3 separate regions of the Homo sapiens genome follow, and all the other regions are linked to region 1. A link means that fine-mapping ties the variant in region 1 to the plasma level of a protein whose gene starts in the linked region. Region 1 holds a variant in brackets. A gene starts in each other region. All regions are shown on their forward strands. Region 1 holds the start of PHLDA3 (pleckstrin homology like domain family A member 3). Region 2 holds the start of GFRA3 (GDNF family receptor alpha 3). Region 3 holds the start of ERBB4 (erb-b2 receptor tyrosine kinase 4).

The links. PIP is the posterior inclusion probability: the model's chance that the variant is causal. Protein levels are from antibody-based Olink assays in UK Biobank. Linkage for the fine-mapping came from a reference panel and not from the study's own genotypes, which makes the PIPs less certain.
Region 2: GFRA3 starts here. The variant in region 1 is fine-mapped to the plasma level of the GFRA3 protein (UK Biobank, PIP above 0.99).
Region 3: it holds the start of ERBB4, and the variant in region 1 is fine-mapped to the plasma level of the ERBB4 protein (UK Biobank, PIP above 0.99).

The regions. Positions count from the first base shown.
Region 1 is chr1:201,468,502-201,478,754 of GRCh38, forward strand. It overlaps PHLDA3 (pleckstrin homology like domain family A member 3), which reads right to left and starts at 687. Exons shown (of 2, transcript NM_012396.5): 1 at 1-687. The coding sequence starts at 285. RefSeq lists enhancers at 1-136, 358-1,072, 587-706 and silencers at 207-516, 727-956. The variant C/T (reference allele first, on the strand shown) is at 203.
Region 2 is chr5:138,270,651-138,280,903 of GRCh38, forward strand. GFRA3 (GDNF family receptor alpha 3) reads right to left here and starts at 3,971. Exons shown (of 8, transcript NM_001496.4): 1 at 3,684-3,971. The coding sequence starts at 3,774. RefSeq lists silencers at 3,694-3,883, 3,974-4,063.
Region 3 is chr2:212,534,704-212,544,956 of GRCh38, forward strand. It overlaps ERBB4 (erb-b2 receptor tyrosine kinase 4), which reads right to left and starts at 4,099. Exons shown (of 28, transcript NM_005235.3): 1 at 3,746-4,099. The coding sequence starts at 3,827. RefSeq lists an enhancer at 2,630-3,130.

The DNA of each region.
Region 1 (10,253 bases):
GTTCCAGCCGGGATCTTCCAGGGGGCAGCGGAAGTCGATCTCGCCGCCCCCTTCGGTCACCAGCGTGAAGTAGATGTGGCGCCCGGTGCTCTCCACGCACTCCACGGCCTTGATGCGGGCGAAGCTGAGCTCCTTGGGCCGGCCGCCCGTGCCCTTGGCCTCGAAGAGCTGCAGCCCGCGTTCGGTGAGGACGCAGCGCTTC[C/T]GCTTCCACAGCTGCAGCAGCCCGCCGCTGCGCTTCTCCAGCACGCCCTCCTTGAGCACGGTAGCCGTCGCCGCCGCCGTCATGGGCGCCCCGAGGTTCGCGGAAAGCTCCAGGCTGCGGCGGGCGCGGCGCCCCTCTCGGCCCCGCAGCGCAGGATTCTGGCGCCCCGGGCTGGCAGGCCGTGCGCGCTGCCCACCTGCGCCCTGACTGCTCCGCGCACCCACACCGCGGCCCTCAGCACCCGGCTGCCGGTGAGGTGGTGTCGGTGCCCCCAGCGCGCTCCGCGCCCACCGCCCCGCTTCAGCCGGCACCCGCTCCTCCGCTCTACCCCAGCTGGCCCAGCCCGACCCGCCTCTGCCAGATGCCTCCGCGCCTCCCTAGGCCGTGAGCCCCACCGCCCGCCCGTTCTCTTGCTCCCCTGGGCTCTGTCTGCGCGCTGGGCGGCAGCTCGCGGGATGTGCCCTTACATGTTCCGCCGCTCGCCTCCTGCGCCGCCCGCCCGCAGCGCATTCCTACCCTGGCCGGCCCTCCCCTCCGCGCCGCGCACCAGCTCCGGCAGGGCCCCGGGGGCGGGGCCGCAGCGGGGGCTCAGTCACTCACTGGAGGCGCAGGGCGCGGGGCGGGGAGGGCCGGGACTGAGAGGGGGCTGCTTACTCAACAGCCCAAGCCTTCTGGCTGCCGTCTGCCGCTTCTCGGAACCGCAGCTCCCCCAGGCCTTGAATGAAGGGGGAGATGGCGGGGAAGGGAGGGGGAAGGCGCATCTCCTCGATTGGAGAGCGCGCTGCTAGCAAGGGGGTGGGCTTGCTTGGCGAACGCGCAGTGGCACCAGTTGCATGTTAGGCGTCAGACAGCTGCTGGTTACTTGGCACGCCATGGGGCCCCCAGCCTCTGCATCAAGCCCATGTTGGGTTCCTCCTCCATCGCCCGATTTCTCTGTGCAGCACCCAAGAGAGGCTGTCCATCGCTGCCTCTGCTTGGACAGTTCACCTGCTCCTACTCCTACCCCCATGCATTGCGCGGGGAGGCCTGTAGAGAGTAGCCAGTGCCAACAAAGGAGAGCTGAGGCTTGAGGTCATTCATGCCCTCCTCGTAGTGGGGGAGGAGGGACCCCCTCCGTGACCTGGGGATGCCACTGTCTGCAGTCCTCTCCACCGCACACTTGCAGGCGCCGACGCTGGACCGATGGCACAGCCAGTCCCAGGTGTAAGCGCAGCTCCAACCTTGCTCCTTCCGCTCCGCAGATTCTGTCCTCCCTCGGCCTTCCCCAAGAATGGACTTCTCCCGCATACAGAGCTGGAGGGGAACGCAGAGGGAGAGGTCTCTTTCTGTTCTGGCTAGAATATTGTGTAAACACAAGAGCTTTGCAGAGTTGAGTTCAAACCTCTTCTCCCTTGTTGGCTGTGTCCTGCCCACCTGGGGCAACTTTACTGACCTCCGTCAATTTCCTCATCTGTCGAATAGGAGGATTAATTTATTCTCATCTCATGGGGTTGTCCTGATGAATAAGTTGGATAACATTTGTGAAAGACCCAAGACAGGACCTGACAACTCTTGAGTCTCAAGAAATGTTCTTCCTCCCCTCTCCCCACTCTTATTCCCTTTAGAGAATGATGGGGGCCCTGAGATTAAGCCAGGCACTGGAAGAGGGCTCTCTTAGGTCCTCATTCTGTCCCCATCTTGATCAGTTCCTCCAGGCCCACAGTTTCTTAAAGGTCTATTCATCAACATGTTAATAATAGATTCTTACGGGAGTAATGATATATAATAATGACAGTAATAAGACCTCTTTGTACTTACACCCTGTGTTGCCATCCTCCTGCCCAAAGAGCAGAGCCTAACAGATACAGGGAAGGTCCTGTTGTGGGGATAGGAGTGCGCTCCTCTGCAGTCCCAAAGTTAGGAGATGAGAGAAGGGAACTGTCAGTGTCTCATCCATAACTCTTTATACACACACACACACACACACACACACACGTGTGACGACAACTAACTCCTAACTCCCAGAATGCCCCTCCAGGAGAGGGAATAGACAGTGGCATTAAAGAAAAGACAAAGACAGGTGTCTCCTGAGGCCCAGAGAGCAGCAGAAGAGGGAGCTCGAGGTGGCCACGGCCCTACCTGAGGGACCCACAAGGTCTCAGCCTGCCTGCCAGCCCTGCCCTCCCATGGCTCCTCCCCACCACTCCACAGGGGTCTCCTGGGTGCACCAACCTGGCACAGTCCTGCCATGATCCAAAGTTCTCTCTCTGAGGAAACAGGGCCCTAGATCAGGCTCTACCCCTAACTCATTTTTTTGTTTTGTTTTGTTTTTGTTTTTGAGACGGAGTTTTGCCCTCGTTGCCCAGGCTGGAGTGCAACGGTGCGATCTCGGCTCACTGCAACCTCTGCTTCCCAGGTTCAAGCGATTCTCCTGCCTCAGCCTCCCAAGTAGCTGGGATTACAGGCATCTGCCACCACACCTGGCTAATTTTTTGTATTTTTAGTAGAGTCGGGGTTTCTCCATGTTGGTCAGGCTGGTCTCAAACTCCCCGCCTCAGGTGATCCGCCTGCCTTGGCCTCCCAAAGTGCTGGGATTACATGCGTGGGCCACTGCTGTTTTATCTCTACCAGTTCCTCTTCTCCCCACACTGGGTCTGGGACTCATTCATGCTCTTTCCAGTTCCAGGTGGATTCACAGTTGTATGGGCTTCGTACAGAGCCCTCTCACATGTTGTAGATGCTCATGATAGACAGATATTATTATCACTGTGGGCGTTTTACCGATGAGAAAAATGAGACCCAGAGAGGTCAGATAATGTAAATGGCGTCACATGGCTTTGAAAATGGCAAAGTCCAGATGAGAATGCATGGTGGCTAACAGGGCCCAGGATCGTTTGATGATACATACCCATACTGCCCATACATGAACATCTGAGTCCACATAGTTCCTTTAAAAATGATCCAGTCACCCATACTTTTCTCTTCAGCTTACTGAGTTGCGAGGTAGCGGGCTTTTGGACACAGGAGAAGGGAACATTGGATAGCAAGAGTGAGCAGATAAAGATGGGGGTGGGGGGCCATTGGAGGAAATTTAGCAGGACATACTCTACTGCTGGAAGGGTCTTCATCAGCTAAGCATCCAGTTCCTAACACGACAACGTCTTCCTGGAGGCCTGAATGGGTCCTTGGAACCTGGAATCCTGTCCTCCAATCTCAAGACCTCTGGGACTAGGGGAGATGATTCATTCCAAATCTTTCCCTAGAACTGGCATCTTGCCTGGTAGCCACATCTGGGAGAGGCTCAGGCCCAGGCTGGATTATTTGGGCCATCAGAAGGATCAAGAAGAACTCAAAAGCCAGGGGAGCAGCGTGCAGAGAGGGCTGGTGCTGCTCCTCCCTTCCTGCTGAGGTATCCCTACCCATCCCCTGGAACAGGAGCTCTGACTTAAACTTCTTGGTTAAGTCACTGGGCTGGAGCAGTGCTGGGCCCTAGAGATACTTACCCAATTCTTTTTTTTTTTTTTTTTTTTTTGAGATGGAGTCTCACTTTGTCACCCAGGCTGGAGTGCAATGGCACAATCTCGGCTCCCTGCAACCCCCGCCTCCTGGGCTCAAGTGATTCTCCTGCCTAAGCCTCCCGAGTAACTGGGATTACAGGCGCCTGCCACCATGCCTGGCTAATTTTTGTATTTTTAGTAGAGATGGAGTTTCATCATGTTGGCCAGGCTGGTCTCGAACTCCTGAGCTCATGATCTGCCCACCTCAGCCTCCCAAAGTCCTGGGACTACAGGCGTGAGCCACCGCGCCCCATCACTTACTCAATTATCATTGACTTGTTAACTCCACATCTGGCTGATGGACAAAATGTCCCATGGTAGCAGCCCAGAGCTGGCTTCTCCCTCTGCCCACCCCAAAGAGAAAGCAGATCTGCACCGTCAGTAAATCCAAGTCCGGCTGGAACAGGCTAGACTACAAAATGGCCCCAGGGAAGAATGTGCTGGAAATGGTTCTAGCTAGGGCTGAGCCACACCACCTCCACACCTGTGTGAGAAGGAGGAAGTCCAAGTGGAGAGGAGGGGTCCCTCTGGGTGGCTACCCAGGACAAGGCGGAAAGAAAGATGGGAATAAGGCGGGTTAGAGGTAAGAATGAGACCCAGAGAGATGCAAAAAGTAACATAGCTTTTGTTTTCTATATTTACTTAATTCTTTTTTTTTTTTTTTTAGATTGAGTTTTGCTCTTGTTGCTCAGGCTGGAGTGCAATGGCACGACCTCGGCTCACTGCAACCTCCACCTCCCGGGTTCAAGCGATTCTCCTGCCTCAGCCTCCCTAGTAGCTGGGATTACAGGCGCCTGCCATCATGCCCAGCTAATTTTTTGTGTTTTTAGTAGAGACGGGGTTTCACTATTTTGGCCAGCCTAGTCTCGAACTCCTGCCCTCAGGCGATCCACCAGCCTCAGCCTCCCAAAGAGCAGGGATTACAGGCATGAGCCACTGCGCCTGGCTGTCTACTTAATCTTATATAAATTCTTCATAAATTGTTAGACTCAATCTAAAGAAAAGTGTTGAAGACAATTTATTAACAAAACAAGACGTACATTAACACTGCAAAAACTTTAAAACTAAGGATGATATCACTCCTTTGCTCAAAAGCCACCAGAGTCTTCTCATCTCATTCTGAGTAAAGCCAAAGTCATTGATGCTACCTGCAAGGCCCTCTAAGACCTGCTCTTCACTTTCTGATCTTACCTCCTGTACTTTCCTCTATCCCTGGCTCCAGCCACAGTCCTCACCATCCCTTGAACTTGGCAACCATCCTTCCTCAGGGCCTTTGCACCTGCTGTCCTCACTGTCTGGAATCCTCTCTCCCAGATCACCAAATGGTTCATTTTTTCACCACACTAAGCTGTGTTCACGTATTACCTTCTCAATGGGGTCTTCTCCCAACACTGTGTTTAAAGCCACAACCCCCTTCCATAGATGTACATACACACACTGTATCCCGTCCCTGCTCAATTTTTCTCTATGGCACATATTAGCATCCACAATTGTATTTTTCTTACTTATTGTCTATCTCCTTTACTTGTGGGCTCTATGCCAGCGGGGAGTTTGTTTTTTGTTTGTTTGTTTTTTTGAGGCAGAGTCTCGCTCTGTCGCCCAGGCTGGAGTGCAGTGGCGCGATCTCAGCTCACTGCAAGCTCTGCCTCCTGGGTTCACGCCATTCTCCTGCCTCAGCCTCCTGAGTAGCTGGGACTACAGGCGCCCGCCACCATGCCCGGCTAACTTTTTGTATTTTTAGTACAGACGGGGTTTCACTGTGTTAGCCAGGATGGTTCCAATCTCCTGACCTCGTGATCCGCCTGCCTCGGCCTCCCAAAGTGCTGGGATTACAGGCGTCAGCCACCGCGTCCAGCCTATCTGTTTTTTTTACCCCTGTGGCTCCAGCACCTAGAACATTGCCTAATACACTGTAGGAACTGAATGAATAATTATCGAATGAGAAAATGAAATGACAATGTACCTGACAAAAACTGGGAGGTGGAAAAGGATAATGCAGAGGAGGGGAAACAATCAATGCAATCTAGAGTTAATGAACTAATGAAAAGAATGTAACTGCATTATTTAAAACAATGGAAACCACTAGATGGTTAAAGGAGATTTTTAGGGCAGCAAGACTATTTTGTATGATACTATAATGGTGGATACGTGACGTTATGCATCTATCAAAGCCTGCAGAACCATACAACAAGAGTGAGTTTAAACCATGAACTTCAGTTAATAGTAAATGTATGAATCTTGGCTCATTCATTGTAAAAAATGTAGCACATTAATGCAAGATGTTAATAATAGGAGAAACTATGGGGGAAGGGTAGGTATGCAGGAACTCTGTTCTATCTGCTCAAATTTACTATACATCCAAAACTATTACAAAAATTAAGTATTTTAATTAAATACCAAAAATAAATGGTTTGCCTGTAATCTCAGCACCTTAGGAGGCTAAGGCATGAGGATCGCTTGAGCCCAGGAGTCTGAGACCAGCCTAGGCAACATAGTAAGATCTTGTTTCTCCAAAATCATTTTTTAAATATAGCCATAGTGGGGTACATGCCTGTAGTCCCAGCTACTCAGGAGTCTGAGGTGGGAGGATGGCTTGAGCCCAGGAGTTTGAGGCTACAGTGAGCTATGATCACACCAGTGCACTCCAGCCTGGGCAACAGAGCAAGACCCTGTTTAGAAAAGTAAATAAAAATTTAAAATAAATTGTTAACAGTTTCTCTAGGTAACAATGAAGAAGAAAGATAGAGACTTATTTTTTCATTGTTCACCAATCTGTATTGTTTGATTTTTTTAAATCCTGTGCATGCATTGCTTCTCTAAAAATCTAGTTAACTGCACAGTACATAAATGTTCATGCGGTGCAGCAGTTGAAAATACACAGATCTACAGGTCTTAGTAGGTTGAGATGCCTGAAATACGTTGTTTCATGGGGAAACATTACAGTACAGTGAGTTAATAAGGTATATAGCATGGCCACAATGAACAAAGTCCACCTCTGTTGTACAGGTTATATCTAACAGGATTCAATTCACAGTGATATGTTACTTATGGAATGTCCAGGATGGGGATGGGCAGTGTGAGAATGCCTGTCATTTTATGAGCATGCTTCAATATGGTTTGGATGTCATACTCATGTATTAGGCATATTTTTAAAATAAAATAAACACATAGGTATTACATAAGTTCTTGAAATAGAATTTCAAACGCAAGGGCTGGCTTCAGAGCAGGGGTTGATTTAGAGGCTTGAATGGCAGTTATTGGCCTCCAGGCATTCCCAGGATTCCCCAAGGTGGGCACATAGAGCCTCCTGATGTCGGGTGTGTACACTAGAACCGAGCAAACCCAGAGCTGAGCATGCAGCCCCTCCTGTCTCTGTAGTTCTGGAGAGAACTCCCCAACCTTGGGGAACACAAAAAAGGGGCTGGTTCCCCCACAGGACCCTGGGCACCTATTCCATTATCCCCTGGCAACTGGAGTTGGAAGGCTCATCTAGGCTGCCTCAATTTGACCCCCAGTCCAGAAAGAGGTGTGTGGCATAGACCAGCGCTTCTCAGACTGCAGTGTGCAAATGGATCACCTGGGGATCTTGCAAATGCAGATTCTGATGGAATAGGTCTAGGGTAGGACCTGAGATTCTGCACTTCTAGAAGCTTCCAAGTAACACTGATGCTGCTAGTCAACAGAACATACTTTAGATAGCAAGGGTCTAGAGCAGCGGTTCTCAAAATGTAGTCTCAGGCCAGCAGAGTCAGCATCAGCTGGGAACTTGTTAGAAATACAAATTCTAGGCTCCACCCCAGACCCGGGTTTGGAGCCCAGCAATCCGTGTTTGAACAAGCCCTCCAGGTGATTCTGACGCCCACGTGTGAGAACCACTGGTGTAGGGGAAGGAGCACTCAGGTAGGAGACAGGACACCCATGTCCTAGCCTAAGCTTGGTGACACCTTACACAATCACTTCCTCTCTCTGACCTCAGTTTCCTCATCTGTAAAATGAAGGCTGTCAAGTTCTATCTTGCAGATTCAGTGCATATTTGAAAAAAAAAAAAAAGCCTGGCTAGTTTATGGGAGCTATGTAACCCCTGTATAGGCAAGAAAAGAAAACATCACTACTCCTTCCTCAACCTGTTCCCTGGATTCCTCAGGCCAGGTAGTGCCTCCTCACCTAGATGGGGCATGAAAATGGGTCTGTTCACAGCCCTGCTCCTCCCCACCCTGCTTCTCCCTTCAGGCTTCTGCACCCACCCTCCAATCCACAGGTCCCTCACTGCTCTCCTCTCCCTGGGAGCTGGGGGCTGGGAGACCCACTCCAGCTGACCTCTCCCTCAGACTTCTCCTGACCTGCTCGCACCGCTTTGATGTACAGCCCTTTGTTCCAGGACTTTGGGGTTTCCTCGGATCTCTGTTTTTCTAAAGGGAAACAGAAGGAAAAACCCTACCAAGGTTTCAAGTCTCTGATGACTTGGGTTTTATGGGCACCATTGCGACAGACTTCAAGTGGGCAGCAACTCTGCAGCCGACCCGCCCAGGCTTGCTCCTGGGCCTGGCTCTCTCAGTGGAAATCCCCTCCCACGCTCAGCCCTTTAATCACTTTCCAGCCCAATAACTTTCCTGATTCACCAAGAATCCCTTTCGTCTTGAGAGCACCTACTGCCCCCTCTGATGGGGCTGAGTCTGGGCTTGAAGGCATTTGATCCCAGCGTGGGTCTTACAGAGATTGGACTTGTGGGCTAATGGTTCAGGTTGGGGCCTGCAGAATTTTCCTTTTTCCCATGCCATCTTGGCATCTGGGTGCCCATGTTGTAGGAAAAAATGGGCTGCCCTGGAATGAATCTCTTCCTTGAGGACACTTGACCAAGGGGCAATGACACTAGGAGGAGACTGACTGATACCCAGGAAACTAGTGGCCTCAACCAATATGCCAATAATAGCCATGAAACCCTTGACATAAAAGTTGCTTTCTCTTTTCTTCTAGTAATAATGTGCTTTAAATGCAAGTAACACTTGAATACATTTTTGTTGCAAAAGATTCAAAACATGACAGTATCTTTTCACCACCCTTCTAGTCCCCCAACCCCAGAGACAACAATCACTTAGCTTGGTTTGGGTCTTGCCAGATATTTGTTTTTACTTTTCACACATCTGCACCCAGACTAGTATAAAGCAGCATTCTCAATGGTAATGTAAGGGAGTTGGTTGAAGGATTCGTAAGTCCCCTTCCAGCTGTGCCATTTTCTGCATTTGTGGGTGGCTTTTCCCTCTCCTCCTAAATAGGAGACATTCATAGGCTCTCCCTAAAAGTATGGGGGGAGGGGGAATGCACAGAGGAAAATAGGAAAGGAAAGGTCACAGTGTCAACAGCAGTTCCTTCGAGGTGAGGAGATCATGGATGAGTTTTTTACCACTTGCCTCTGATTTTCAAATGTTTCATCATGAGAGTTATAAAGATTATTATTCGTGAGTATGACTTTGATAACAGGGAAGCTCCTATGCAGTGCCATTGTCAAGATCAGGCAGAGAAGGAGGCTGTGAGTTGTCCAGCCTGAGGCTTAGGTCAAGGAGAAATTAACAAATTGCTCAAGGCAGAGGGGTGTGTGGAGGGGCTTAGGGAGGGGAGGAAGGCTCATGGCATATTCTTGGATGTGATCTACAGGAAGATTCATAGAAAGGAACTTCAGAGTAAATCCCATTGTGTGTGAATTAAGAATTAAGTATTCTTAATTCTTAATTCAGGCCCTGGGCTAGACTTTAGGGACACAATGGCAAATGGGTGAATCAGAGTTCTCTACTTAACAGGGACTAGCAAAAGAAGGGGAGGAAGAGTTCACATCTTTAGGAATCCCACCCTACTTTTGCAAGAAGATATTCCTTCCTACTGAAGAAGACCCCAGAGTTAAGCATTAGATCTTTGACAGGCTACGATCCTGACTTTGTAGAAATATGGTCTCCATACTTGACTCGGCCTATCTAAGGTGATATTGGTATGTGTACTAGTTAGGATGGGCTAGGTTATGCTGTGCTAAGAAACTCCTCCCAAACCCAATAGCTTAACATAGCAAAGGTCTTCCCACTCATACCATATGTCCTACTTGAGCTGGCAGGGGAGGTATATCTGCTCCTTGAGATATACACATATCCAGGTTGCTGGAGGTTCCATCACACCTACTTCCACACTCTCCACAACAGGGAAAAGGGACATGAAAACTTACATCGTGCCTATTAAAGAAGTCTGCTCAGATGGCCAGGCACGGTGGCTCACGCCTGTAATCCCAGCACTTTGGGAGGCTGAGGCAAGTGGATCACCTGAGGTCAGGAGTTCAAGACCAGCCTGGCCAACATAATGAAACTCCGTCTCAACTAAAAATACAAAAAAATTAACTGGGTGTAGTGGCAGGCACCTGTAATCCCAGCTACTTCAGGAGGCTGAGCCAGGAGAATTGCTTGAATCTGGGAGGCAGAGGTTGCAGTGAGCTGAGATCACGCCACTGCACTCCAGCCTGGGCGACAAGAGTGAAA
Region 2 (10,253 bases), not on the chromosome of region 1:
AGCACTAAAGAACTTACTTATGTAACCAAACACCACCTGTATGTACCCCAATAACCTATGGAAAAGAAAAAGTATATCAGAATTTCTCTAGGAAATATGTATTTCCAAAAAGCATATTTGATAATTTTACATGTACAAGATGAAAAAAAAAGCTTTTGAGATTTCAAAAAGTATTTAAGGAAGGTATGAGATTTTATATATTTACCAAAAGGGGAACATGGATTTAAAAAGATTGAGGAATTTCTACAAGTTTACGATGTTACTTCCGGTAGGTACTGAATAAGTGGTAAGTACACAAAGAAAAGTGGCAGATTCAAGTTCTATTGTTGTAACTGGACTAAAAATAATTTTTTTTTTTTGAGGTGGAGTTTTGCTCTTGTTACCCAGGCTGGAGTGCAGTGGCGCGATCTCGGCTCACTGCAACCTCTGCCTCCCGGGTTCAAGCGATTCTCCTGCCTCAGCCTCCCAACTAGCTGGGATTACAGGTATGCCCCACCATGCCTGGCTAATTTTGTATTTTTAGTAGAGATGCGATTTCTCGATGTTGGTCAGGCTGATCTTGAACTCCCGACCTCAGGTGATCTGCCCGCCTCGGCCTCAACAAAGTGCTGGGATTACAGGCATGAGCCACTGTGCCCGGCCATAAATATTTAACTGTACTAACTATTGAGTTGTAAACATTTTCAAAAGAAAACAATTTCTTAGTTGACACTTTACCAAGTTTGAGCAGTGATGGATTTAGGGGCATTCATCTCAACAAAGAACTTGGGGGCCACGTTAAATTTCATCTCAACAAGGTGGAACCTGTGTTTCCTGGATTGTGAAACACAGGACTTGATCCAGGGCAAAGGTCATAATTTGATCCAGTGTGCAAATGTGTCTTTTTTAGTCAGCATAGTTCCGTTCCTTTCTTTTTCTTTCTCCTTTCTCCTTTTCTTTTCTTTCTTTTAATCTCTGTCACCCAGACTGGAGTGCAGTGGTACAATCGCCACTCACTGCAGCCTACAGTCTCGACCTCCCAGGCTCAGGTGAATTCTCCCACCTCAGCCTCCCAAGTAGCTGGGACTGCATGCATGCACTACCACGCCCAGCTAATTTTGTATTTTTTGTAGAGATGGGTTTTCACCATGTTGCCCGGGCTGGTCTCGAACTCTTGAGCTCAAGCAATCCACCCACCTTGGCCTCCCAAAATGCTGGGATTATAGGCGTGAGCCACCATTCCCGGCAGTATTTTCTTTTCTGTTTTTTTTTTTTTTTTTTTTTTGTGTGTGTGTGTGTGTGTGTGTGTGTGTGTGGTTTGGTTGTTTTATTTGTTTGTTTGGTTGGTTTTTTTTGCACGTTCACAGTATTTTCTTTTTCTTTTTTTTTTTTTTGAGACGGAGTCTCGCTCTGTCACCCAGGCTGGAGTGCAGTGGCGCGATCTCAGCTCACTGCAAGCTCCACCTCCCAGGTTCACGCCATTCTCCTGCCTCAGCCTCCCGGGTAGTTGGGACTACAGGCGCCCACCAGCATGCCTGGCTAATTTTTTCTATTTTTTAGTAGCGACGGGGATTCACTGTGTTAGCCAGGATGGTCTCAATCTCCTGACCTCGTGATCTACCCGTCTCAGCCTCCCAAAGTGCTGGGATTACAGGTGTGAGCCACTGCACCCAGCCAGTATTTTCTTAAAGTTGTAATTAGTGGCCAACATTTAAAAATCAGATTTTAGGCCGGGTGCGGTGGCGCACACCTTTAATTGCAGCACTTTGGGAGGCCAAGGTGGGCAGACTGTTTGAGCCCAGGATTCAAGATCAGCCTGGGCATCCGAGATGGCAAAAACCCGTCTCTACAAAAAATACAAAAATTAACCAGGTGTGGTGGCACACTACTACAGTCCCAGCTACTGGGGAGGCTGAGGCAGAAGGATTACTTGAGTATGGGAGGTTGAGGCTGCAGTGAACTGGAATCACACCACTGAACTCCAGCCTGGGTGACAGATTGATACCCTGTCTCAAAAAAAAAATCAGATTTCAAATAAAACTATTAATTTCCAATTTGTCTTGAAAAATGGAAACACTCGGGCCCACATGTAACGGGTGGAGTAATGACTGCCCCCTTTTGACAAGTCATGCCTTTTCCAGCTTGTTATAGTCCATACCACTTTCTATTACTTGCCCCACCTCCTCATTTATACAGCCACTGCCACGTCTATTTCATATTGATTTGTTAGCAACCTGGTTTTGTAACTTTGTTTTCTGCTTCTTGGCTCATCAGAGAATGAGTAGCTACAGAATGGGTCAGATCAGGCTATGCCTCAGGGCACAAGATCCTCATTTGTTTCTCATCAGTGAGGCCCACAACCCAGGTATCCATTTTATAGTTGGATGAACAAAGAAAAGTAATGTGCACCAGGGGATGTAGCAAGTCAAGACCGAGTCAAGGCTAGAACCCAGGACTCCAGCCTCCTATCCACTTCAGAATGATTTTCAGTACATGACACCACTTCCCCATGAATCGGAGGTCTCCTATATGCTTGGCTTTAGCAGGCCCTGAGCAATGATATTTTCCACCCCCAAAGCCCTCTGTTGGTCTGTGCTCTTGAAGAGCACTTGGCTCTACATGGTACCTCCTAGATGACTGTTTTATGGATTTTCAATGAGGCTACTTAACCAGATGTCATTGCTGTCAAGTATTACTGTGGAAAATAGATCTGTCACCAACACTGCTTCATTAAACCATTTAATGAGAAAGGTGTTTAATGTTTTCCCCTGATCCTGACATGCAGCCATAACCTTTAGGATTAGTGAAATTTCCTGGGCAGTCAAATCAGACTGGTGATGTCTTGCTGCCCTGACTTACTGATGTTGGCAGGTGGACAGACCAGGGTTTTTCCTCCTTCCTTCCATATCTGTCTCAAGGCAGCATTTCTACAGCACTGCGTTGTGGACTGAGGTCTCAGGGCAGTGTGGTGGTCTCTCTGTCTCAGGAGTCCCTCCATTCAGTCTCTGGGCAGGAGCCGCATAATAAGATTCCACACACCCATACCACTCACGAAGGCCATGGGCCTTCCAGGGATCTCGGATCCCAGGCTGTTCTTCCTTGGGGGAGTGGCCTGGTTCTAAAACCAGGCCTTGAACTACATCTACAAAACATCTATTGTGGATTATTTATTATCCAAGGGGCAAGCCACTGTGCTAGACGGCTTGCAAGGCCTGCTATTGTAGAAGGTTATGAAACAAGTCAGTTTTAACGAACTTCTTTTTCTTCACCTGTACCTAGTTTCTTCCTCAGTCCTTAAAGCAGATGGAAGAGTTAAAGCCCACGTGGAGCAAATGACACTCTGTTTCTGATCTGATTCTCCCCGCCTCTTAGAGACGCTGTCTTGGTAGTGACCTGGCTGTGGGTTGTTCTGTGACTGTGTAGACCTACCTCAAAAGAGGGAAGAGGGGGGAAAAAGGGGCGAGGAGGAGATGCTTGGGTGGCCAGGCCATTGCTGGCACTCAGTCTATCTCAGTTCGTACACTGTGTTAGGTGTGACCCCAGCCCCTTGCAGGCACCCTGGGCTTCCTGCTCCAGTTCCCCTTGTTCGGCTCGGATGCACCGGGAGGCTGCTGCGCCCTCTCCGGACAGGTGCCCCGGGCCTCGCCTACACCTCACCTCCCCCTCCCACTGTACCCCCGGCCGGTGCGCGCTCTGACACTCACCGGCTGCGAGAGGCAGCGGCGACGGCGGCAGCAGCAGCAGCAACATCAGGACTACGGGCGGCAGCGGTCGCGGGTTCAGGGGGCGCACCATGGCGAGCTGTAGGCGCCGGGCTCCGCGCTCCCCTCGCTCCTCCCCTGGAGCTCTGAGAGCGGGGCTCCCTCGACCGGCACCTCCCGCCCCCGCCTCCCGCCCTCCAGCGCGACGCACACACTCTCCCACCAGGGTCCTGGGCGCCGCCCTCCAACTCCGAAGCGCGCGTCCACACCACGCGCCTCCAGCGCTGGTCCGAGGGACCGCGGGGGTGGGGGCGGGGGAGGGCCGGCGCCCCGGGAGCCGCCGGGCTTGGTGCGGAAGAGGTTGCTCTTTCCGAGGCGGCCCACCTGCTGTCTGACAAGTTCGACTAGCAAGACATTGTGGAAGCTGCCGCTGGAAACTCGCCATCTAGGAGAACCAAATATTTCTCCAAGAAAAGCACCCTTTCTCACTTTCTGGATCCCACTCACCCACACATCAAAGAACAGACACCACCACAAAAGAGATTTTGTAACAAAACTTGAACAAGCCAACACAAGGGCACTTGCATTTCTAGTATTTTTCTTAGAATTTGCACATCTATGATCTCGTTTTTTCCTCTCCTAAGTGTCTTCTAGGGTAAGATTGGGTGGTTATTAAGCTCAAGATGCTGCAAAGATGGGTCGCAGACAGGTGGAATGGCTTTGCTGGGGGAGCAGACCTGGGGCATTAGATTCCAAAATTCAGCCCCGATGGTGTCGTGAGGGAAGATGGAAGATTAAACTCTCCACTAAATAGCAGAGATTTCCTTGGACCAAAGCTCACTGAGGAAGGTGCCTGGAGAGACCATTTAGGAGCCCATCCTTTTCACATGATGAGACTTTCGGAGAGCAAGCTACTCTATCAGGATTAAACAACTAGGTAGAAACACATCTGTGCCCAGAACACAGGACGTCTACCCATAAGGATAAGGGTATTTATTGGGCCTGGGCCTGATTCCCACAAGATCCCAGGATAAAGCCAGAAGCAGAATGGCTTGGAAGAATGAGAACTAAGCAGCGCATAGAAAGAGAGAAGGAGAAGAGGGTGATGAAAGGAAGTGGAGGGTTTCATCCCCTAACCCTCTAACTTGACCCCCTCCTTACTTCCACAGCCAGCCTGGCAGAGGGCCAGCAGGGAGTACTGAGAATCGCAATATAAACCTCTGAGATTTATTGGCTGCTGCTTCTGAATATGGCCATCCTGCTGTGGCCTCTGGGGGGCATTTGCCGATGTAATCAGCCCAGAAAGAGAGTCATTCCAGCTGGGGGTGTAAATCACCCTTGGCAAAGCTAGGAGAGAGACATGTGGCCCTAGATAAGGAAGGAGACTGATGTGGCCTCTGTGCCCTTCCCTCCCTTCTCCTGCCCAGGGGGTGCTGGTTCCTGAGCTGTAATGCACTTTAAATGGAGTTTGTCCTTCGTTTTAATCTATATCTGCCCTGCCAGTTTTACAGAAGAGCTGTAAAAGTGAACATCTGGCTACTCAGCTTTTGTACAAGGCCTGTTTTCCCCCAGCTCCACCCTATCTCCATGTGCCTTTCCCAAGCCCTCCTCTCCAGAAAGGTGAGGGAACATGAAGCTGGGGGGCTACCATTAAAGGCCCCATGATGTCAGGCCCTCTACCCCATTGCCAGAGAGAAATATGCTCCAGGCACCTCATTTTCTCTCACACCTGCTATTACAGGCAGACAATCGTTTTTTGGGTTTTTTTTTTTGAAACTGACAATACTTAAGAAAGGAATTTATAAAGCAAAATGTAACAATTTCAGGCTCTTTGGGATGATAGGAAAGGGCTGAGACCCATGAACCAACAAAGATGTGAGGTGGTCAAGGGGTGTCTCCTCTGCCCTCCCCCTCCTCCAGCCCAAGCCAAATCATGTTATGGGCAGGAAGAGGGTTTGGGAAAGGAAGTTTGCTCAGGGTGCCTACTCTGATAGATACTCAGTGTCTATTCCAGGGCTGTCCCCACAGAATAGACCAAGAATGCAGTATCAAGCTGACGGGCTGGGAGCAATGACCAATCCCACCTGTAACAGGCCAGCCTTTTCATGAGAGAAAATAAAGTGTCTGGTGCATATTTCTGTCTGGGTACAGGGGTGGAGAGCCTCATATCATTGGGCCTTTAATGAGGATTGGAGAAGCTCTGCAAATAAATATGACTCCAAGACTAATATTGACAGCCCTCCAGCACACCCTCTCCACCAACCATGTCCTCTGTGACTGCCAACACCTGCTAGATAAGCAGCATTGCCCCTTGTGGACAATGACAAATGAGCCAGTCCTTTCTACAGAGATGATGTTACTCATCCATCATTCAATTCAATAATGTGTTTTGAGAATGATTATGAGCCCAGCTTTATGCTAGGTGCAAAATGATTAAGACACAAATCCTGCTCGGGGAGGGTGTTACAATCCACTGATTGCAACTCAAATGCCCAAAGACCCTGTATCTTATTCCACTTTCACTTGTAATCTCAATTTTCTCCTCTTATGGTCAGATTACATGGATTCTACCTTCTCTCAAGTCCTCTCTCTCTCCATTGAGCTTTAATTCCTGCTGCTATCCTAATCCAGGATGTTAGCAGTATAATAAATAGTTAAGACCACAAGCTTTACAGACTGCCTAGATTCAAATGCCGACACTAGCTGGATGACCTTGGGCAAGTCACTTAATTTTTCTGTGCTTCCATTTCTTCACCTGTAAAATTAAGGATAATAGTATCTATTTCACATTGTGAGGATTAAATGAGTATAGTATTTAAATGAAGGTGTAGGCTGGGCGCGGTGGCTCACGCCTGTAATCCCAGCACTTTGGGAGGCCAAGGTGGGCGGATCACGAGGTCAGGAGTTCAAGACCAGCCTGGCCAATATGATGAAACCCCATCTCTACTAAAATTACAAAGATTAGCCGGGCATGGTGGCACATGCCTGTATTCCCAGCTACTCGGGAGGCTCAGTGGGGCAGAAGAATTGCTTGAACCCAGGAGGCGGAGGTTGCAGTGAGCCAAGATCATGCTATTGCACTCCAGCCTGGGCAGTAGAGCGAGACTCCGACTCAAAAAAAAAAAAAGAAAAGAAAAAAAAAGGTGTAGCATTATACCTGGCATATAGCAAGCATCGAATAAATATCATCCCAGGTAGCATGCAGGAGTTAATTATTCTGTGTGTGAACTTGGCCAGACCCCACCACCCGACCTGCTGATTTGGAGCTGGAAGTGGCACTTTTTGCTCCTTTTGCTGAATATACTACTAGACCAGAGTGCTTGTAGGGATGGAAACAAAAAGAGCCATTTTTTATTTTTCTACCTTGTCAATTTCTTGAGGGCAGGGACTGTGTCATATTTTAACAACTGTGATACTCAGAATTGGCAACTCCAGATGCATATGTTTAAAGGAATTGGTGTTTCCTTAACCTATGCCTGAACAGAACAGGGAGAGAATCCCCCATGCCTCCTACTTTATACTCCTGATAAAGAAAGGGAAATATTCCTCCTTAATATAGTTTGGATATTTGTCCCCACCCAAATCTCATGATGAAATGTAATCCCTAATGTTGGAGGTGGGGCCTGGTGGAGGTGTCTGGATCATGGGGGTGGATCCTTCATGAATGGCTTGGGCCATTCTCTTGGGGATAAGTGAGCTGTCACTGAGTTCACAAGAGATCCAGTCATTTAAAAGTGTGTGGCACCTCCTCCCATAACTCCCTCCCTCTCTTGCTCCTGCTCTGGATATGTGACATGTCTGCTTCTCCTTCACCTTCTGACATGATTGTAAGCTTCCAGAGGCCTACCCAGGAGCTGAGCAGATGCCAACACCATGCTTCCCATAAAGCCTGCAGAACCATGAGCTAATTAAGCTTCTTTTCCTTATAAATTGTTCAGTCTCCCAGGCAAGCATGGTGGTCAGCCAGGCATGGTGGTGTCGGCCTGTAGTCCCAGCTACTTGGGAGGCTAAGGCAGAGGTTGCAGTGAGCCAAGATCATGCCACCACACTATAGCCTGGGTGACACAGTGAGACCCTGTCTCCAAAAAAAAAAAAAAGCCGGGCGCGGTGGCTCACGCCTGTAATCCCAGCACTTTGGGAGGCCGAGATGGGCGGATCATGAGGTCAGGAGATTGAGACCATCCTGGCTAACACGGTGAAACCCCATCTCTACTAAAAATGAAAAAAAAAAATTAGCCTGACGTGGTGGCGGGCACCTGTAGTCCCAGCTACTCGGGAGGCTGAGGCAGGAGAATGGCATGAACCCAGGAGGCAGAGCTTGCAGTGAGCTGAGATCATGCCACTGCACTCCAGCAGGGGTGACAGAGCAAGACTCTGTCTCAAAAAAAAAAAAAATTACCCAGTCTCAGGTATTTTTTTTCTTTTTCTTTCTTCCTTTTTTTTTTTTTTTTTTTGAGACAGGGTCTCACTCTACTGCCCAGGCTGGAGCACAGTGGTGCAATCATGGCTCACCACAGCCTCAACTTCACATGCTCTAGTGATCCTCCCACTTCAGCCTCTCAAGTAGGTGGGACTACAGGTGCACACCACCACACCTGGCTAATTTTTAAAAATTATTCGTAGAAGGCCAGACGCAGTGGCTCATGCCTGTAATCCCAGCACTTTGAGAAGCCAAGGCAGGTGGATCACCTGAGGTCAGGAGTTTGGGACTAGCTTGACCAACATGGTGAAACCCTGTCTCTATTAAAAATACAAAAAAATTAGCCAGGCATGGTGGCAGGCGCCTGTAATCCCAGCTACTTGGGAGGCTGAGACAGGAGAATCACTTGAACCCGGGAGGCGGAGGTTGCAGTAAGCCAAGATTGTGCCATTGCACTCCAGCCTGGGCAACAAGAGCAAAACTCCATTTTTTTTTTTTGAGACGGAGTTTCGCTCTTGTTGCCCAGGCTGGAGTGCAACGGCGCGATCTCGGCTCACTGCAACCTCCGCCTCCCAGCTCTCAGGTTCAAGTGATTCTCCTGTCTCAGCCTCCCAGGTAGCTGGGATTACAGGCACATGCCACCATGCCCGGCTAATTTTTGTATTTTTAGTAGAGATGGGGTTTCATCATATTGGTCAGGCTGGTCTCGAACTCCTGACCTCAGGTGAGCCGCCCGCCTTGGCCTCCCAAAGTGCTGGGATTACAGGCGTGAGCCACCGCACCCAGCGAAACTCCATCTTAAAAAAAAAAAATTCTTCGTAAAGACAGGGTTTCACCATGTTGCCCAGATGGTCTCAAACTCCTAGGCTCAAGTGATCCTCCAGCCTCAGTTTCCCAGTGTTAGGATTACAGGGTATTTCTTTATAGCAAAGGAAGAATGGCTTAATACATTCCCTTCTCTATGGCAGAGGTCACCCAGGTCCTGGGCTGAGATTGACAAGAAGCAATTGCAAAAAAAAAATTTATGTATATTTTTTGAGACAGAGTCTCCCTCTGTCACTTAGGTTGGAGTGCAGTGGTGCAATCTCAGCTCACTGCAACCTCCACCTCCCGGGTTCAAGCAATCCTCCCACCTCAGCCTCCTGAGTAGCTGGGACTACAGACATGCACCACTGCACCTGGCTAATTCTTAAATTTTCTGTAGAGACAGAGGTCTGACTATATTGCCCAGGCTGGTCTCAAACTCCTGGATTCAAGCAATCCTCCCACCTCAGCCTCCCAAAGTACTGGGATTATAGGCTTAAGCCACCGCACCTAGCCCAAGAAGCAGGTTTTTGTTTGTTTTTGATACAGAGTCTTGCTGTTGTCACCCAGGCTGGAGTGCAATGGTGTGATCTTAGCTCACTGCAACCTCCACCTCCCAGGTTCAAGTGATTCTCCTGCCTCAGCCTCCTGGTAGCTGGAATTACAGGTGCCTGCCACTACTCCTGGCTAATTTTTTTTTTTTTTTTTTTTGAGACAGAGTCTCCGTCACCAGGCTGGAGTGCAGTGGCCCAATCTTGGCTCACTGCAACCTCCACTTCCTGGGTTCAAGCACTTCTCCTGCCTCAGCCTCCCGAGTAGCTGGGTATTTTTAATAAAGACGGGGTTTCACCATGTTGGCCAGGATGGTCTCGATCTCCTGACCTCGTGATCTGCCCACCTTGGCCTCCCAAAGTGCTGGGATTACAGGTGTGAGCCATCATGCCTGGCCTGTTTGTATTTTTAGTAGAGATGGGGTTTCACCACATTGGCCAGGCTCCTCTCAAACTCTTGACCTCAGGTGATCCACCCTCCTCAGGCTCCCAAAGTGTTGGGATTATAGGCATGAGCCACAGCGCCCAGCCTCGAGAAGCAGTTTTTAGCTCAAAACATTTCTGTTCAATATTTCTTTACCTCCTGATGAATAAATACCAGTGCAAGGACACCAATGCCGAGCACACCCCCTACATAGCCTCATACTGAGGTCTCTGGGCTGGGGTTTTAGTGCCTGCTCATATCCTTATCTCTCAAGCCAAAGCAACCCTTATGGCCCTAAATTCTCAAGAGCTTACCATTGAGGCTCTTATAGATTTAACACCCAATACAGGGCCAACTCTGGAAAGGCACAGTGG
Region 3 (10,253 bases), not on the chromosome of region 1:
AGAGAATCTATAGTAACAGAAAGGGTGAATGCATAAGACAGATGATAAATAGTACTTCTATTTAAAAACCAAAGGGATGAAAGCTCATGAATACTACATATTTGAATCCACTTTGAGGAGGAAATACGATTTTCCATCAAATAAATGCAAACTCTAAAAATCAGCCAATGCAAACTTACTGTGTTCAGGTTAGAATAAAAAATGCATAAATCTTCCACAAAGTTCATGCTCTGATAAATATTCTAATGTAATTTCTTAATTAAGACACATTTCCAGTGACTAAATGAAAATATATATATAAAGCAGTAAGTGCCTTGATTTTCAACAAAATTTCACTTTCTATGCATACATGATTAAAATAAATAAAAGCAGTTGAGTTTAAGAGCAAAAAAAAGGAATACTGATATAACTGGAGTCATTTCATCACAACAGAACAGTTATAGTATTTCCAAGCGATTTGCAGTTATACTAACAGATATTTATTTAGACATATTGTGAAGAAAAAAATAACACCTTCTTCTAAAAAGCCCCCTTTTATATATATATATATGAGAATTTCAAATTAAAAAGAAAACATTGTACCGATAGATGTGCTTACAGTAAACACTTGTAAGAAAGAGAATTGATGCTTTCTTGAAAATATATTTAACACCTTTTTCACCACTTAACTTTTATTAACATTTTTCTTCTCAAATGAAAAATAACCCCATGATTTTGGAGATATAATGATGTATCTTAAATATGTACGAAAGCTATATGTACTTTTATAGAATGAAAAGCAAGACTGAGTTACCTGCAAAAAAGAAATGGGAACTGAACTTGTTCATCGTTTATCTACTAAGGTATATAAGAGTACCACCTCAATGCTACTATACATTTTCTTCAATACCAAGGCAATATTGATAATTTTCCATTATACAAGGAAGACGAATTTTAGAACCATTCCTTTGGTTAGCAAAGGCTTTATAATTGCCATATAAAGGGACTTTGGCTATATCTAGATATATCTAAATAAAATGCATAATTGAAAATGAGACAAAGTCCTTTAGAATTTCTAAAAAACATCCTCTCTAATGCTGAATTTTTTTCCAAGCAAAAGAAAAAAGAGGTTCTCTTCTGTTACAATTAAGAAATATCTTAAAGATCTATACAACAGCATCCCCCGCCCTATATTTTTATTCTGTTCACATAGAGCAGTAAATAAGGTGCATTCCTTCTGCTTAAGAAATTAGCATTTCAAAAATATGCCACTTTCCCCTGAACTCCAAGCGTGTCTAATAATGCGAGAAGCAGATTGTCTTCCCTCGTTTCCTTAATTTGTTTCATCTAAAAGCAATTCACTCAACATCTTGTCGCCCTCTGGCAGCTTAGTTTACTTATCCGCACTTAATTTCTCATTTGGACCAAAACAAACTCCTCCAAACTGCTACTGACTGCTAACCGCGAGAGGGGAGACGCGCAATATGTATTTAGTTGGGAACACACAGCCACACACATACATAGGCACAAACACACACAGCCTCACTCATACCCCAGACAGTAACTTGTTTTTATAATAGCACTGCATTAAAACCAGCTGAACTTTCCCTGCCAGGTGCGGCAGGGTGGGGGTGGGGGAGGATGAAAAACGAAGTCCCCCGGGGCATTTACAGTTTCCAATGGATCACCTTAGTATGCGTGTTGCAATTATACCAGGGATGCACCCGAGAGCTTTTCTTTGTGCGGCCCTTTCATCTGGATCACTTTGTGTTTTGAACAAGTGAGGCTCGCCTTTGTGCCCCCAGAATTTCAAGTACAGAGTCACACACGGAACAACAATGGCACGCTAATCCTCGCGCTCTAAATGGGCTCACTTGTGGGTCTGACAATTCGCCCAGGGAAACGAGAAGAGACGAAGCGAGGGCGCGAGCTAGTGTCGCCTGAGACGAGGAAGAGGACAGCTGCAGAACTAATTTGGATTACATTCCTTGCAGAAATTCTGAAAAGGGCTTTTCGGCATAGCTCAACTCGGAGCCGCACAGTTAATACCAAATTGCTGCGGACTCGGAGCGGGGTCCCCCAGTGGCAGAGGCTGAACCAGACAGCCCCCAGTAGGTCGCCTCGTAGAAATTCCTCTCGGCTAAGCCTGCATGTCGGTCGCCAATGCCTTTGAATGGGTCAATGTGCATAATCAACCCATTGAGGGAAAATATGAAGGGACTCGAAGTGGGGAGGGAGATAAAAAGAGATGTATCTAAGAGGCCGCTTGGAATGTCAAGTCCGTGTTGGTGTGATTCCGGAGGTGGCTGGAGCGCGGGACCTGGTATGCGTGAAGAATTTCGGAGTAATTGGGAGGGTGCAAACGGCCAGCACAAACGCCTCACATGTGCCATTCGAAGGTCATTTTGAAAGACTCGATAATTGTAACTTGTTATTTACTAGGCAAAGGAGGCGGCGGCGGCGGCGGCGGCGGAGCGGGAAAACTACAGCTAGCCGTTTTCTTGGTGAGGTCAGAAGGACACCCTCCGGGGGCCTAAAGCGCTCCCTATCGCCACTCCCGGGGGCTTTATCACCTCAAGCTACTTCCCACGCTCCAGTCACCATCCCTGGATGGTTTCGGAAATCTCTCTGGCTCTCCAAAAGGCACCCCTTGGCCACGTCAAGACACCGGTCCTCCTCAGACCTCTCCCGTCCCACTTTCATCCCCAGGAAACTCTAGTGTCAGAAACTTTGAGCTCCATTGCACTGCAGGTGCTGTCATTAGTCCTGCAAGCCGTGGCGGGCCAGCCCCGCCGCGCTGCCTCTCGGGGTCAATTAGCCCTTTGCCTGCCCAGGTACCTGGGGCTCGAGCTCTCCAGCAAGCAGTGGCCGCGCACCCATCGCCGCTGCCGCTTTCGCCTCGGGTGGATCCAGTGACCCGCAGGCTCGGCAGCCTGGCCGGGCAGTAAACAGACAAGTTTGAAGGACTCCGGCCAATAGCAAGTTGAACTACAGGAAGAACTCTTCCCGGAGCCAAACACGGCAACCGACGGGAAGGCCGGGCTTCTGGCTCAAGTGTGCCAAGCCTTTTTTTTTTTTTTTAAGAGGTCAGGCAGGCGAGTAAGCGCCCCTCAAGTCAATGGGGAGAGGGCTCCGGGAAGCCGGCGGAAGAGGCCCAGAACTCCGGGCCCCGGACCGAGGCGCGCCCGCCTGCTGCACTCCGGCTGCCCGGGCTGGGCGCGAGTTGCGTCTGACGCCACAAGGCTCGGGCGACTGGGGGCGCAGCGGTCGCCAGCAGCACACACAGGTGCAAAGCCCGATTTTCTGAGCGCCGCTCTCCACCGCCCTTCGGGCTCGGCTCGGGAGAGGCCCAGCCAGCACCGCCCCAGGACCGCGGCCCCGGCGGTGCGGGTTCTGCCCTCGGGGACCCGACAGGGACAGAAGAGTCTCCTCTGACTGGGGATTTGGGTCTCCCATGTCCCGAACAACAGGCGCCACCAGAAGGGATCCCGCTTAGGCTCCCAAACAAAACGCTCGGGAAAGAAAAGCAGGGGGTTAAGGAGAGAAAAGAGGGACTCAGAGTGATTTTTCACGATAAATAAAGCAAACGCACACATACAGGGTAAGTTTCAAATGGAAAGAGGGGTGACCGAAAGCCCAGGGAAGAGGCCCCGGTCAAGCGGTCCCTCCACGCCTCCCGGGATGGGTGAAGAGGGCAGGGGAGCCACTCGAGGCAGCCCCGCCGGCGGCTGCAGGTTCGGCGACCGGAGTGCCAGAAGGAACCCACCTGACTGAGAATCGCTGGGCTGGACGGTCCCCGCCGCCACGAGAAGGCTCACCCAGACCCAAAGTCCTGTCGCCGGCTTCATTTTTTGGAAGTCTCAGATCCCGTGCTGACAATTACATGTCCAAATGGCATATCCCCCTTTCGGGCACGCGGAGGAGATCCCCCAGCCGGGCGCGCGTGGGGGTGCGAGGGGGGCGGGCGCGGCGCGCGCGGTGTGGCGACTCCCAGGGCGGGCGACCGAGTCCGCGCCCGCGGGTCCAGGGCCGGGGCCCGAGGAGGGGGCGAGTGTGAGCGCGTGTGTGCGCGTGTGGGAGTGTGCTCGGTGTGTGCGCTTGGCGCTCTGGGCCGGACTGTGCAGCTATTTCCCCGCGTGAGCCTTCGCTTGCTCGCTCCCTCCTCACTTTCTCTCTCTCTCACTGGTTGGTCAACAATAAAAAAGGAAGGGGGGCGAAAGGTTTCCAAAAAAAGTTGATTGCAAAGAGGCGGTAGGTTTCCGGCCTCTCCCCGCAGCCGGGCTATGTTCTGCTCCTTCTTCAGTTTCCTTGCACCTCCAGTCCAAATCGGGAGGGGAGCGGGGCGGGGGGAGCTTCTCGCTTCTCCCCGGATCCCGTCCTTCTTTTTCCTCTCAGCTTTCCTCACACTTGTCCGGCGGCTGCGGTAATTAAAGCTCCGAGCGTCATTTCCAGCGCTCCGCGGTCTCCAGCTGCAGCCCACAGAGAAATTAATAAGACTCCAGAAAAAAAAAAAAAAAAGGTGCGGGGGGCGGTGGGAATAAAACAACCCTCCACGCAACCAGGCCGGCTCTGCTCAGCCGCGCAAACCCCGCCCATGCTCTGACCCAACTAGCCACGCCCTTCCCCCCCCCTTCCAAAGGGAAATCTTATTGGCTCAGCCACTCCCCAAAATCCTGGGCCTCCGGAGTTGGGAAAACACCTGTCAGGGAAAGGGAGCCTCTTGGTGGGGGCAGGGGAAGCTGGATTTAAAGGGCTCACCGAAGCCATGCACTGAAGCACTCGTCTTCCCTCCCTGGCAGAGGCCTGGGACAGCTGGCCTGCTGAGTGGACGGACCATTGGAGGGCCGCTTACGGAAATTTTTTTTTTTTTTAAACAAGAAAGTCAGCATTTTCTCCGTTGCCCCACGGTGCTCATCTACAGACAAGACTTTCCCTAGAAATAAAAGTCAATGTTGCTTTCAGCAAAAAGCCTCCGCCCGCAGTACTCTGCCACTCATGGTCCACAATTAGAAAGTACTTTAAAAGTGTGTACAGCAAGTAACTGGTAGCCCCTGAGGATTAGGTAGTGGTAGGGGTATAATCACCGCCCCGCCTCCCGCCCCCAGTTATGCCATCTCTCCGATTACTCCCACATTTCTAAACTGACCAACATTGAGCCAAACTAAACTTTCACATTTATAAAGGCATATCCTTTGATTTTTAGATTTTATGTTTTTTTTTCACCTTTGGAGTTCATTCTTATTAAGCAGATTCTAGTCCAAAGCCACTGATTTGATCTTAAAGGGCTAGAAATTGTCCCCAGCCTGAAAGAATTTAAGGAGGCCACATCAGAACATAATTAACCTTAAATGATTCTGTTTATTCTACAGTAGACCCAGCTTTAGGCCCCTTCCTTGTCCTCACTCTGCACATTCATGGTCCCTAATCTGGAGGTCATTGCTAGTTACGAAAGTCTCTGACCTTTTCTGAATCTAAAATATTCTGGGACTGGGTCATTTCAATGTACATATCCCTTGCCTTTTACAGCTCTGAAACCGCACCCTGGCAAGGGCCAGAATCTGCTGGGGGTAGTTATTGGTTTGCTATTTGTACAGGCATTCTATGTATGAATCACTTTCCTTTTTTGGTTTTTCTAGAAGCAGCAAATATATAAATAAAAAGTATCAGGGGAGCTTAAAAATCAAACCACCCTGCCTTTCATTTGAGACCTTGATCTCCATTTCCCACTCTCTTATCTATAGCCCCATCCCTTAAGAATTTCCATGGAGCTGAGAACAGATAGGAGGTACAGATGCCTGAAGCCTGAAGCTTTCCCTTTCTTAGACCCACAGCAAATAACAGGCTCCATGAAGACGCCCAACAAGCTGAGCGTGCGGTTTTACCAGAAGCAGCCTAGGGCAGAGAGGAACTAAGCCTAGAGCAGATGACGGAGACTTGACCAGAATGGTACTGATTGCAGCAAAACTGTGCACACTGCTCTTTGGGATTATCTTTGTTTTCTTTTCTTTTCTTTTTTTTAATTACTCTTTCTCTCTGTTTTCTCTTCTTTCATTCAATCTCTTCTCATTCCCCTTGTCTTAAATCCTTTTGAAATTCTCAGGCACCTCTCTTCCATAAAAGCTACTTCTTTTCAAAACTTACTTTCTGTCCCTAGAATGACAATTTAAATGAGAAAAACATCTTCCTTTTGTAAAAGTTTAAGTCTCTGTAGTAAAAAAAAAAAAAAAGTCTGGTTTCTGATGGCAATTATGTTGCACGAAGTGAAGGAATGGGCCAGGTGTGGTGGCTCATGCTTGTAATTCTAGCATTTTGGGAGGCTGAAGTGGGAGGATCCCTTGAGGCCAGAAGTTCCAGACCAACCTGGGCAACATAGTGAGACCTCAACTCTACCTTTTTTTTTTTTTTTTTTTAATGAGCTGGGTATGGTGGTGCACACCTGTAGTCTTAGCTATTGGGAGGCTGAGATGGGATAGAATTGCTTGAGCCCAGGAGTTAATAGTTACAGTGAGCTATGATCATGCCACTGCACTCCAACCTGGGAGATAGAGCAAGACCCTATCTCTGAAAAAAAAAAAGAGAGAAAAAGAAAAAGAAAAAAAAGACAAAGTGAATAAATGAGTTGCATATTTTCGCTTAAATTGTAGGGCAAAAACTTCATGGCCTGAATATTTTGGATTTTTTTATAGTTGTGCCAATTATGTTAGTTTTTGTTCCCCTGTCAATTTTATAGCTTTTCTATAACAGAATATCTTCTATATGCCCTGCTCTCACCCATATCTTCTAGAATAATTCTTGACAAAGGAGGATTTTCCATTAATATTCATTGGTTTAAAAAAACACTTAGTATATATTTTTGTGGATATTAAACAGCCCATACAAGGATTCACCTATTACATTACCCAACATACCCACAGTTTCCCTCTAATTCTGTTTGTTCTGCCTTGATCCCCATTTTACTCATTCTAACATTGAAACAACAATTTTAGATATGTGGCCACAGATGGGTATCTGAACAGCAGCCTATAAAATGATTTGACATCAAAGCTTTTGCCAAAAAAAGCATGATATATTTGATGGTGCCTTGTCTACCCAATCAGATTCCAGCTCAGATAATTTGAAATGTAGACAGGAAGGTAGTACCCTGTATGGGCAAGCCAAAGGATGAGAAAGAAGCCATGAGCTCAAGTCAAGAATCAGTTATTTCAGTGTCTACCCTCATTTGCTTCCCATCTCATCTAAGTCATTATAAGAAACAAATACCAGAGTAGGGAATATTTACTAGCTGATGTAGAAAGGACATGATACTTGGATTGTTAGAGGCCAAGATGAATCTCTGTATTTCTTTACTTTTCCATATAGCTTGATAATAAATCCCTATTAGGGGACCTAACTAGAATGTGTTGCTGTTACTCAGAACCTGCATAAAAATTATGTGGGTAACACAATGTGTTACTTAGCAAGCCACGGATGAATACCTGGAATTACCTGCTGAGTGCCCATTTTCCAGAAACAGCCCTTTCCTCAGTTCTACATGTTTAACTTGGATCTACCTCCGTGCTACAACAACTCCCACTCCCTGGCTCTAAGTTGGATCACTCAAAACACCAAGTTGAACCAAGTAAAATGCCTTGCTCACTGTTAATTGGATGGGACTTCCACTGAGTCCTTTATCTGGCAGTTTTTGTAAATGAAATAAAGAGTTTATATCCAGTCTTTCATGGATAGCTTTTGAGATCTAAAACTCCACATCTAGTTTTTCTTTCCTTCTATATAGGAATAACCAGGCCGTGGTAAGAATGAAGCTACTGTTTGAAAGAATCAAAATCTCAGATGGATCTGGAGAATATTCAAGCTCTTCCTGTGGGTTAGTTGTTCATGTCCCCTTTTGCCTTAAGCTAGTTCAATTTTCATTGTTGTTACCTGAAACTAGAACAGTGTGAAATGGGACTAGAACTTCTCCAACTTGAGAGAGATCATAGAGGTCATTATGCCCTTGAGAACAATATCTTGCTATGGCCCATATTCTTTTGTTTTCCTTCCAGATCTCTCACACTTTCCCTTGGTTGAAGCTGTAACCCCAATATAGAGATGGCTTTGTCCTGTGATGCTCTTTCATATCCCCTTCTCCTCTTCATTTCTTCCATTATTAACAGAATTCAAGGAGAGTCTTGACATAATGAGTGACAGAATGCTGCTGTTTGGAGAAAGGAACACATTGAACTCAGAATTCAGTGTAAAATTATTATACATCCCTGACTTTGTCCCAGAGTCTTATAGTTCATTCCAATCTTCAGCTTGTTTCTAAGACTTCCCTAAAGGTCATATTAGAGCTTGCTGCTGTAAATATTTTGCGATCGGCCATAAATATAAATTTGTGACAAATGTCAAGTAAGAAAAGTAAACAAGACTCTATTACAAACCAGTTATCTTCTCAACATTTAAAAATATATAATTATAATTTCACTTCTTGTGCCTTATCTTCCTCCTCATCTTTCTAAGTCATCTTGTGATCATGAGCAATTCAATTCATATACTGTGCCCATTTCCTCACCTTTAAAGGAAGGGCTTGTTACATCCCAAATCTAATACTTTATGACTCTCTGATTTACTCTTCACCTACTAAGTGCTTGTCAAAATTCCCATATACTTTAATTTTCTCTTACATTCCTTCTTCTTTACTCCCACTCACCCCCACACACATCTTCATCTGGGACACCAGATGAACACACCTTAAACTATCATTCTTAGCTCAGGCTGCTATATCAAATACCATTGACTGGGTGGCTTAAACAGCAAACATTTATTTCTCACAATTCTGGAGGCTGAGAAGTCCAAGATCAAGCTGCTAGCTGATTTGGTTCCTGGAGAGGACCCTCTTCTCGTTTGCAGATGGGCTCCTTCTTGCTATATCTTCACATGGCAGAGAGAGCCAGAGAGAGAGAGAGAGAATGAGATTCACTCCCCTGTTTCTTCTTTGTTTAAGATCACTAATCCGATTCGTGAAGGTTCCACCCTCATGATATAATTAGCCAAAACCCTATGTCCAAATACTATCAGATGGAGGATTAGGACTTCAAGATGTGAATTTGGGGATACACAAATATTCAGTTCATAGCAAGGCCTTAGGAAAATGTGCAGATAAGCTCACTTCTGTATTACTGAGAATTGATCAACAATTGGGCTCTTTACCACTCTTTCAGCCAAGGAGAAACTGGTAAATACCAACCAGGCTCGGCATTATGATAATCAAGCAGATGACAGACACAGTGGTGGTAGATTTTGCTTGTTATTAATAGTTTGTTGACCTAGCATTTGAAATAACACCTTTCCTCTTAACCCTCTGAGTTCTGGAATTCTCTGATATTTTGGTGACATTCAATGTTTCAAGGCCAAAAACAACCACTGAAAAAATTCAAATATGTTTTAAATGCACAAATACAGGTTAACTTAAAAAATCCTTTTGTTGCCTTAATTTAATATTCAAGGAGGATGTTCCCAAGAGTAAGCGTTGTTTTCCTTCTATGTGCATGATTAAGCTTTAATTTTTTAAGTGCTAAGGAGGAGTGACTGAACATAAATCAATCAAATCTGTTTTGCTTTTATGTCCGTTTACCAATGCCTGTCCAAGTTCTTATGGACATTTTTGATTTGTGGTTGAAACTATAAAACAATTTAAGACCTGTGGAAAGAGTAATGTTTTCCAAAAAGATTATGCAGAAAGATTTTTCTAGTAAAATATTTTTCTATTATGTATCTGTTTTATATATTTTCTTAAAACCAAGATATTGTGATCCATGTAGCTTTTTGTACTGCTGTGTAAGCTTAAAGAGAAAGAAAACCTCCAATAGCAGTTGCCAATTAAAAACTAGAAAGAAAAGAGACATTTCTCCTTTTTGCTTTTCTGTATATTTAAAACTAAGTTACACAGGAAGTTACTTACTGAGGCTATGAGAGTTGAGGTTACTTTTTAAGGTCTGGCCTGAAATCCATAACAAGATAAAGTTTACTAGTTTCTTTCTCAGGTAACATCTTATGTTCCACTTCTTTCCTTTTATATTCTTAACTCTGCAAAGGGTCTAATCATGTTATAATTAATACATCAATTGATCAAAAGAGTCTAAAATTAAATTTACTATGCACCTTAAAATGGATGTTATTTTGACTAGGGTCAGAAAGAGCTCTTAGAATTTTTCTTGAACTCCTGCCAAATTGTCAACCAAGGTAATCCTTTAGAAACCATGTATTTTCTTCTCAGGTTCACATAGGAATGGATG